2 separate regions of the Homo sapiens genome follow, and region 1 is linked to region 2. Evidence: fine-mapped expression QTL. A gene starts in region 2. The other region holds a variant in brackets. All regions are shown on one strand. Distances are between the middles of the regions.

Region 1 (5,379 bases), 39 kb after region 2:
TCATTCATGAACTCAGAATAAAGCTGTTGTGAGAATTAATTGAGATAGTCTATATCTATACAAAAAAGGCTTAGTGTAACATCTGGCAATATTATATATCTAATAAATGGTTAAAATATTTTTCTATAATTCGTCCATTTCTGACTTAGCTCTGGCACATTACACTTCCTCTCCGAGTGCCAGTATCCTCATCCTACTTCAACACCTCACGAGGTTCTCATTTTGGCACCTGACTCTGTCCTCTGAGGACCTGCACCTTTCTTGGATCTCATCCCAGGCCTCTGAGAACCACCTTAGTATCAGCTGCCCACAAGGATTTACAGATTTCAGCCACACTGATTCCTTGTGTCTGTGCTTCACCCACTGACAGTGGGTGACTGTGCTTCACCCACTTCACCACAACACTGCCCTGCTTTGTCTTGGATGCCTTCATATTTGCAGGATATAGACTGATTATCTGAACTGGAACCAGATATTATGGTATCTGTTGCCTACCAGAACTAAGCTTTTCCCTCAGCCCCAGAAGCTCGTCACTTACCCAAAAGCAGTACCTTCTCTTTAGGCAAACCTAGACACAGGTCTGGCTTCCCTTCCTATGTTCCAGCCTTGCCCCAAAGATTGCAGATAGATGACATGGTAAACTCACAGAAGGATAAGACAGAGCTTGGAGATGGTCACAGTATGGAGTTTTTAGCCACCCCTTTGTTACAGTGATCCCTAAGGCTTCTTTCAGTTCTAAAATTCTCTGGTGGATGATTCTATTGCCTAGGTTACAAAAGCACCAAGCATCAGTGGGAAAACCACACTTTCTTTCTCTCCTCTGCCTTTAGGCTTTGGTAACAAGCCTAGGGTCATTGAATCAAATGCTATAGGTGTGCTGAAAGCAAGGTGAAGTGATGTGGTGGTGCCAGAAGCAGTTGTATAATCAGATAGGTTCCCACAGCCAAAAAAGGTTTTCAATGAAGGCAGAGATATTCAGAGGATGTGGTCCCAACTGTCATTCATTCATTCATTCATTCATCCAGCCACACAGCCAGCCAGCCATCAAATATACACCATGAATTTGCCATGCAACAGTGAAAGGGGTACAAAGATGAATAAAACAAGGCATCTGTCTCAAGAAGCACACAGGCTGTTCAGGATTCAGGCAAGCACAATACAGTGTGATGATACGTGCTGTGACATGGGAATCTGCAGAGGCTATGGCAGCACTGAGGAGGGAGGAGAGACTCTCCTTCAGACCAGGATGGGGGTTGGTAGGAGGTGGTGGCAGGAAGAGATCCCAGAACAGATGACTTAAGCAGAAGCTTCAAAGATGAGTAGGAACTGGCCAAGTGGAAGAGAGATGATAATAGCAGCCTTTGCAAAGGTTCACAGGCATGTGAGGGCAGGATGTATTCAGGGATCCAGGAAGAGGCTGATACAGTGAGAAGGAGGGGGTTGCTATTAGTGATGGGCAGCAGGAGATGAATCTAGAGGGGCAGGCAGAGGTCAGATCTGGAAGGGCTGTGTGTTGAACTAGGGAGGTTTAGTTTTTTTCCATGGGGTGTGAAGAGATGCTGGCTTAAGAACTTCTAAAAAGAGGCTGGAATGACAGTATGACAGTGCACAGGAACAAATGACAGTTGGTTTTTGGGTGGAATGCATCCAAATTTCCTCTCTCAAAGCTTCCTGTCTTCCCTTTGGCGACTATCTCATTGTGTGAAGCAGTCTTGGTTGGAAGACATACCCTGGTGTAGTGCAGAAGGTCTGCAAATGTTTGTTGCCATATAAGTTACCCTGTTTTAGAGGTGGGCACATCAGAGAGTATAGTCTGTTGTTCTCTATGTCTATCTTGCTCTCGTTCTTGTATTACTAGTGCTTGGCATAAAATAGATACTCAATAATATTTGTTGAATAAATGAATAAACAACAAACAAATGGGAGACATATCCTTGTGAAAACATCTGTGAGTGCATTAACCTCAACAACCTTTCATCGTCCATCTATAGAATGGCTCCTACCATCAAAGTAGGTCTCTATCAGATTTGAGGGATGGAGGAGGGAGCGGACTCTTAGACCTGACAGAGGACCACAGCTCTGTGTCAGGGTATGGTTCTTATATTTGTATGCTCTGCTCCAGGAAAGTAACAATATCTCCATCATTTAATGCTGAGTCACATTAATTGGATAATCATAAAGAAGGGAAAGAGCTGGCCTACTCTGTTTATATTGGTTGCTTTATCCTCAACTTGAATGTTTACAGGCTGCTGAGAGGAGAAATGAGCAAAACAGGAACAGAGTGCCTAACACATGTTAGGTGCTCAAAGATGTCTGACCAGCTTCCCACCTGGCCAGGGCAAGAGCTCATTACATGACAGCTGATGGTCCTCATCATAACACTGCAAAGTGGGCATTCTTACTCTCATGTTAGAGCCCAGGGAATGACAGATTTTCTCAAGGCCATAAAACTTGTAAATAGTGAATTCGGTATCTGAACCCAGGTCTGTCTGACTTCAAAGTCCATTCCCTCTCCTCTCCACTCAGCTGCTTTTGAAAAGACAAACAGC[G/A]TGGGCACGTACTGAGTACAGTGGATTGACATAATGAGGTGCAGAAGCTGAAGAGTACCATGCTATCAGGGACATCAAAAACGGCCTTACCCGCTCTGGTGCTGGCAAAATGATGAATTCCAGCATGGGATAACCAGGCTCCTTCCTCCAAAGTCCATTTTTCACTGAGGTCCATGCTTCTAGCCCCTTGTATGTATAGCTTTCAGATCAAATGGAAGCAATCTCCTGAAATAAATAATGAATATAAAAAAGGGATTTGAATTACCACTGATGTTCTCTTTGTGAAGAGAAGCTTTCTTGAAGGAAAGTGGTCAGTTTCTAGCTCATTTCATTCCTTTGGCACACAAAGCTCGTTGTCTAGATTTGGGTATGGCCTGAGTGTGAAGTTGCTCAAGCCCACAAACCAGGTTTTCCTCACCATTCAGTTAACAAATATTTGTGGAATGACTATTGTATGCCAGGCTTTGAGCAAGAAATTTACTATTTAGTTGTGCATAGTTTATAGACTCCTAGAATTTCAGGGCAGGATATAGTGGGATCTCAATTTTATTTAAAAGATACACACTCTTCTATTTGCCTAAAAAATGACTAAAAAAACTTGAACTAATAAGTTAGAAGCAGTTTTCATTGTATTAGAATTATGACTACTTTTTATCTTCCTTGTAATTTTCTGCATTTTCAACAATGAACATGTATTGCTTTTGTAATCTCAAAAAGGTATGCAATAAATATTATTTTAAAAGAACACTTCAGAGCCAAGAGGGACCATGGAGACCAATTTTCCTTTTCCTTTTGAAAACTATAATAGAAAGGCACAGTTACAAGGGCTCTTGGCTTTCGTAAAAAGATCATTCCCACTCCATTGGCCACCACTGAGAAGGCCAGCCTGAAGAATCTCTCTATATGCAAACTGTACCTGGGCTGATTACAACTCATGGCCAAACTCTTGCCCATATTACAAAGAGATCTTGATAACGCTCTGCATGTAGCAGGTTCTCAAATGAAAGTGATTGAGTAATTGAACATGACTGATTCATCACATCTGTGAATGCAGCAAGTGGGACATCCACACAGTAGAAGTCCTGTCAGCCTAATTAGGATAGGCACCAATCATCATTTGCTGTAGTCAGCCCAGCTGGCTTAATTTGGTCTCTAGAATGCTGTTCAGAGTTGCCCTGCGGGTTCCTGCATTGCCTGCCAGACTGCAGACATGGTAGATTGACTTGTTGCTTTTTGGCTATCTGCCTGGAAAAATATGATACTTATGGGAGATGCACCAAACAAATAACAATATCTAATAAAATACTAGGAAGTACCAAAGAATGTAGTGCACTTTATTGGGTACTGCTTCTCTAGCAATTTGTGTTGAATCCAATTACCCAAAAATTTTGGAAGGGAGTTCTAGACCAGAGTGAATATGGCACAGTGTAATAGTGAGAACGTTAGACTTATCAATAAATCCAGATTTTAGCCCTGACTCTGCACTAACTGGATGACTTTGGGCAAACCAGTTACTTTCTCTGGGCTTAATTTCCTCTTGCAAAGACCTCTTCAGGCCTCCCAGACTTGCAGCCTATAATAATATGCTTTTGTATACAAAGGCTACCTATCCACCCATGTCAGTGGATTGAGGAAGCTGCATTATTTATCCGTTAGCCAACTGAGACATCAGCACACAAGAGGTGGCTGATTGAGGCTAGAAGTAGTCTGCCATTGAACCAGACACGTTCTCTGTGCAAAACTAAAAACATGTCTGGAGTAGAAATCCAATATTGGGCCATAATCACACTGGTATCATCATTTAATCAACTGAAGTAAATATCCAACATTTTATATCTTTGCTGATTATTAAATAGTATTAACAATAATACTACATCCTTAAAAAGCAACACTTATTTACAACAGGTAATTCAAAATCACTTCATTAATCTTTGCAGTATCTTTGGGAAGTGAAGTAGAGACTCCAAGAGCTTTGTTTGACAAAAATAGGCTTTAGTGATTAACCAAAGAGTGGTTTTCAAAGAAGATTCCCATCTCTCTTGGCCCAGTGGCCTAGGTACCCTCTGGCTTCCAGGAAACAGATTTGCAAGATGATATGGATGTGTGAGGTTAGGCTCTCACATCCATGATTTTATTTTATTAATCTGAACTACATAGGCCCATGGTGAGTGTTTTATTAACTTCAACCTGCAACCCCTGCTGGTTTCTCTGATGCTTGAATTTCACTTCAGCTTGGGAAAACCAAGCACTAAATGTAAAATGAAATGGCATCAAACACATGTATTTTGAGGAAGGTTTTGATCCATCACACCTGTTACTGAAATTCCAACACCTCCCTTTAGCCACAGGAAGCCCCAGAGTTGCTCAGGAGATTCTGGAGCCTAGAAAAGAGTTTTCAGGCCTCAGGCCATATAAAATAACTTACTAAAGAATTTCTATTGGGTATTTAACCTCCATCCAAGTCTAAACCCTGCCATAGACAAAGTCCATGAAGAAGAAACTAAAATGTAATGCAACCTTGAGAATTTAATGAAAAACATAATGCAACCATGGAAACAGGAAGTGAAGAAATACTTTCTAATGACAGCACAAATACTAATATGCCTGATAAGTTGGGGTGGGTGAATGGGAAAGACCATCAAAAACTTACAGATGTAATTCTGGCTTTGAGAATCACTTTTTTAGAACTAAGCTACCTGCATAGATGGACATTGGGGTCTATGGAATACTGGAATACTATGAATACATAATTGGCACTTCATAAATATTGGTTGATTGAATGGATGAATAAATGCCCAGTGTGGGTGAAGACTCTACCTAGGTATTAGAT
Region 2 (5,379 bases):
GAAATGCAGCACTGATACCTAGAGGCTATACCTTTCAACAGAACTCTCACCAGCCAGACTGCTCATTTCAATTAGTTCAGCCATCTTTTCCCTAGGCCCTGGGTCCACACTTTTCCTTAGGGGTAGACATCAGAAAAGCTGAGCTCTACCCACAACAGCCTCTAGACTAACTGGCCCAGGGCAGACACTCTCAAGTCTGATCAGCGGAGTGCTTTCCCATAAAATCACTCACATTTCTGCATTCATGTGTTTTTCTTAACGACAGCACTTTAAAATCTCATTTAAACTGAAAATCCTCCATTAGCCTCCGTGAAAAGATGTATTTTTAAATGCTTTGATCTCCACATGCCCTTTGGAAAATTAGTATGCTACATCCTCCATCATCTGCAAAGAACCTGAAAGACCAAGACTTCTGTGCATTTTAAAAAGAAGGGGGAGGGAAAGGGGCGTTACAGGTACAGCACCTTCTCTCCTATCCACCTGCAGGTTTACAAAGGTTTCCTTATTTATCTTGAAAAATGCATCACAGAAAAACAAAAGTGCACTCCAAGAACTAAACATCCTCATCCCTCCCCCCAACCCCCACCACCATCATAAGGAAAAGTAGAGCCTGTATAAAGCCTTCTACCTATGTCCTACCCTTTTCATTCTGGTCGAATCGGTGTTTTCCTTCATTCTAGTCAAATCAGTGCTTTTCCACCCTTTACTAACAGTTCAAAGTATATTAAACTACTGTTCCCACATTATTCTCATAAAGAGCCTTCAAAGTAGATACACACTATAAGGCTCAGAGCACCTTACTAGGAAGTAAATGTCAGTTGCTCTAGATTCTTTAAGACCTTGCAATCTAGAGAGCTCCTTAATCGTTAACCTGGGTCTGACTTCCACAGCTGCCCGGGCCCAGGAGTGGTATGCAGCCAGGGGAAATCTTAGCCAGTTTGGCAGTGACCCATAGGCCAGTTTTGGAAGCAGGGAGCCATGATTGTTTAATATTTCAAGCCTTGACTTTTTGCTTCCCGAAAAGGAAGGAAATTTTCTGGAACTGTAGCTATTAATAGCCCTCTATTCTGGTTTAATTCGTTTATGGTGAGCAGGTTAGCACGTTACTGCTTTGGTTAGCCGAAAGCATCTTCGAGGTATCACAACTGGCTCTCGAGACCACGTACCCCACCACCACCAAGGCCTTCTATAAGCAGTACAAAAACTCAGTTCTCATAACATGCCTCAGGAGAAGAAAATGGGAAACCAAGGCCTCACAGAGAAAGGGAGCTGAGGGACCATGGGGACAAAATGTTGGGTCCAAACCGCATCGTCTCAGGAGGCCGCACGCTCAGGGCCCACCTCTGAAACCCCAGTCCAGGTGATCCACACGCTAGCCCGGCCAAAAGGTATTTGCCACGCGGAGACAGGAAACCAACACCGAAGCCAAAAAGGCAAAAATCTTCGAACAAAAATGGAAAAGGAAAGTCTTCCTAGTCATCAGTAAAGATAGGAAGAGTAGGGTGGGCGAGGCGCGGGAGCTTTGCGCAGATACCCGGGATTCTCGGCCTGGGGCTCTGAGGGGGGAAACTTGGACACGTCGCCGCGAGCGCAGTCCAGGTAGCGGAGGCCCTAGAGGTGCGCGCCAGGGCTCGTCTGCTCTGCCGCCGCGTCCTCCAGCCCGGCCGCCTATGGGGCACGCTCGGTCCCTGTCCCGGCACTAGGCCACCGTTCCGCTCGGCTGTCATCGGCCAACGTACCACTCTCCCTCCTGCCACAAATGTCACATTCCAAGAAAAAACAGTTCCATTTGGAAAGTTTAAATTTTCTCCCCGCGAAAGCAGATTATTGTAAAGGCAGCCCTAACAGGCAAGCGGGAGCTGGATGTAACTCTCCAGTTTGTCAAAGAAACTTGTCTGGGGAGAGAACAAAGAAGGAGCAGCAGCTAACGCGATCCGAGCGTCTGGGGCTGGGGTGCGACCCTTTCGTCGCCCCCACCCGCCAGAGCCGGGTCTGGCCGGCGGGCAGAAAGGGTCCAGTCCACAGCGCCAGAGCCCGTCGGGCGGGCCGGTGCGCGCGCCTTTGTCTCGCGCCGGGGAAAGCTGCACCGGACACCCCCTTCCGTCCCCTCCCTCGCCGCGAGACCCGCGCGCGGGCGCGGGCGCGCCTCGGAGTGTCTGGCCATATGGCTGCGCCCCTCAGGAAAGGCCAGCCCCGCGTCGGGCGCGCAGCACCCCGGGGCCCAAACCCCGGGGCCACAACTTCAGTCAACGTGGGTCGCGGGGCGGCAAGACGCTGAGGCCCGGCCCGCAGGCAACTGGACCTGGAGCGGGGCAAGGGAACCCGCTTAAAAACAACAATCTGGGATCTCAGCCCCGGGCCCCCAGAAGCTGCCCCCTTCCGTGAGCAGCAGGGGCCCGGGGAGCCCGGGGCGACTGGGTTCTTCGCGTGGGAGACTCGGAGACGCCCTCCCGGCACCTCGAGTGGGGGCTGGTTACCTTTCACCGCAGGCTCACAAGTTCCCCGGCGCAACTTTGCCCTCCACATGAGGCGATCATGGCTAGTTCAGTCCCTCGGCTGGGGAAGACGGCTGCCGGGCAGCGCGGGGAAGTGGCGCCGGACAATCAACCCCATTCACACAGGGCTTCACCTCCAGCCCCAAACCCGACAACCGCTGCTGGGTCCTAGAGCTTCTCGCGCGCTCCCGCCGCCGTCCGCGCTCCCCGCTCCCCGCGCGCGGGCCGGGGAGGGTCGCCCGGGCTCGTCACTAGAACCCTACACTCCACCCCCGCCGTGGCGCCCGGCCGCTGGGCCCTAGAGCCCGTCTGCAGACACCCGCCGCCCCTCCCCGGGCCGCGAGACTGCCAGGCTGAAATTGCCCAGAGCTCAAGCTGACGTGTCTCCCTGAGACTTAGGAGGGCGACAGCATCCCTTCCTTTGTCCCCTGCCGGGTTTTGATTAATTTCAGACTCACCAGTTCTCCCTCCACTTTGTCTTCCTTCCCCACCAGCCCAATGCCGGCCAAAATTCTGTTTCCGGATCTGCCCAAAAGTCTAGATTTGCTTAGGTTGGTTTTTTTTCTTCTTAAGTGGAATTTCCAGGTAGAAAGTGGCCACACTTTTCTCAGCATTCCCCAGGCCCCAGTGCTTCCATCACGCACTTGAGATTGGGCGATAAGCTGCTACTATGTGCTCCGTTGACAAACAGAAGGGCCAAAACAGACCTGACAGCCTCGGATATTAAATGTGTTCGCAGAACCGTACATCCTCTGGCCATAAATCCCCAGGCTGTTATCTGCCTGAGTAGAGGTAAAGAAAGTAAGCGACTCTGGGAAAATGTTGCCCCACCTCTTAAAATCAGGCTGTGCTGAGAACTACTCATCCACCTCATTATATTGGTTTATACTGGCGGCTCTCTGGAGCCCTAATCTGGGGTGCCCGAGCCTGCCCCATAGCACTTCTGCCTGGCTTTTTCCGGGCAGCTCTACTGCTTGGAGAAGAGAAAGCTAGGTAACTGTACAGTTGCTGCCCAGGATGTTAGTGGGAGAGTTAGCGCACACCAAGCCTCTCTTATCTGGTGCTCCCTGCCTCTGTTTACCTGCTATCTAGGTCCGGCCTTCAGGGACTCCTCCCTGGATTGTGGCAGTTCCCTAACTAGACTGCCAGCAGTTTTACCTCTCATCAGTTCTGGTGGGTTGCATGTCCTGATTCTGATTCCCCTGATGGGCCCTCCTACTGAGTAAACTCTGCTCTCAAGATAAAGCCCAAATGTAATCATTTAACAATTATTTATGAAATGCCTACTCCATTTAAAGTCATCTACCCTGGTACACACAAAAGAAACTTAGCACACAAAAGAAACTTAGAGCAGCTGACCAGCCCTTCAAGGATCTGTTATCTGTCTAAGAAGACAAGATGTGTGAACAGAAAACAGGCAAGCAACAAAGCAGGAGATCCAAGTACTGCAGATGCCTGGGAAGGGCGGAGAGAGGCACTGACTACACAGAAGGAAAAGCCTGGGAGGGTGGTGGAGTTCAGACACAGCAGAAAGAGGAAAAGGCAGCACTGGGCAAGCAGAGGCAAAAGCCAAGAGGGAGATGACAAGGTCTGGGTGCTTGGGAAGAAGGCATAGAGGAAAGCGTTTTTACCAGAAACGAGGAGAAAACAAGGGAAGGCAGAATAACAACGTCACAAAAATGTAGGCCTGGAAAGAATCTAAGAAAGTGTCAACTAAACCTTTCACTTGCCGGATGAAGAAGCTCAGGCATAGCTGTTGAATGACTTGTCCAATGTTACAGAACAAGTTTAGTAGCAAAGCCAGGTATAGAAACAACCTCTGCCTCAATGTGCCTTGTATTACACATTGTGAACCCTGAATCGCAAATTAGGAGCTGAAGTGGTTATCTTATGGACAGTGAAGGGACCACTGATTCACCTAACATTTGCGCGAATTTAATACAAATTGGGGAAGAAGTGATGGATAGAAAAAGAAGAAAGGAAACTAATCTTTACTAATTGCCCACTCCTAGATACCATCCTATAGTCTAGGAAGCAGCAAAATTTCCAAGTTACAACCATCAAGTTTAGAACAAAACAGGCATGAGCTGAGTTGCAGCTCCACCATTCAGTATCTGTGTGACGCTGAGCAAGTTGCCTAACTTCTCTAAACCTCAGTATCCTTTTTGGCAAGATGAAGAAAATAGCATCTCACAGAGTGGTTGTGAAGACTGAATAAAATAACAAATGTAAAATACTCAGCACAATGCATGTAGTATTCAATATACATTTGCTATTATTATTTCAAGAGACTATCTAGGATAGTTGCAGGAAGCAATGATAGGTGAGGTTGACAGAGGTGATAAAAAGGAAATGAGAGATACCATATCTTTGGAGATACCAGATGTCATAAAGAAAGGTATCAAATCTTTGAAGCAAGATTTTATTCTTCTCATTGACTCGTTGTTTATCCTGGGGAAAAGGACAAAGTAATCAAGTTAACCTAGGCTTTGAGCCCAGTCATAGGAAGAATAGATCTTGCAGTCTTAGAAGAATGGATCATTAGACCAATGACAGATGAAGCACAGTTGAGAAGAGGAAACGGTTTGAGAAAGATGCTGAGTGACTTACTATCCTCTGGGCAAGAGGAAACAAGGAACAAGGGACTGGGTGAGAAGTGGAGGACAGAGGTGTAGAGAAAAGGAGAGATGAAGCTTTGAAGATCAGTTCATTAACAGAATGTCCACAACTGGAAAACAGGGAAAGAAGGAGGGAGAAGAGGAAGAATCTGGAGAAGTAGAAGAGCTGGGAAAAGGTAAAGGCATGGAAGCCAGAGGAAGTTTTAAGAAGTGGGTCCTTCTATCAAATGCTACAGATTCTTAGACCTGCAATGAAGTGCTAGGCA

Evidence for each region. PIP is the estimated chance that this variant, and not a neighbour inherited with it, causes the effect. A credible set is the group of variants that fine-mapping cannot tell apart.
Region 1: its variant is the best candidate, but not a certain one, in a credible set for the expression of AMOTL1 in blood mononuclear cells (TOPMed, PIP 0.64).

The regions. Positions count from the first base shown.
Region 1 is chr11:94,726,316-94,731,694 of GRCh38, reverse strand. All of the region lies in intron 1 of PIWIL4-AS1 (PIWIL4 antisense RNA 1), which reads left to right. It also overlaps a transcript of AMOTL1 not described here. Among named protein-coding and RNA genes, the nearest start is that of PIWIL4-AS1, 11 kb to the left of the region's middle. The variant G/A (reference allele first, on the strand shown) is at 2,550.
Region 2 is chr11:94,765,659-94,771,037 of GRCh38, reverse strand. It overlaps AMOTL1 (angiomotin like 1), which reads right to left and starts at 2,682. Exons shown (of 13, transcript NM_130847.3): 1 at 2,478-2,682. The coding sequence starts at 2,526.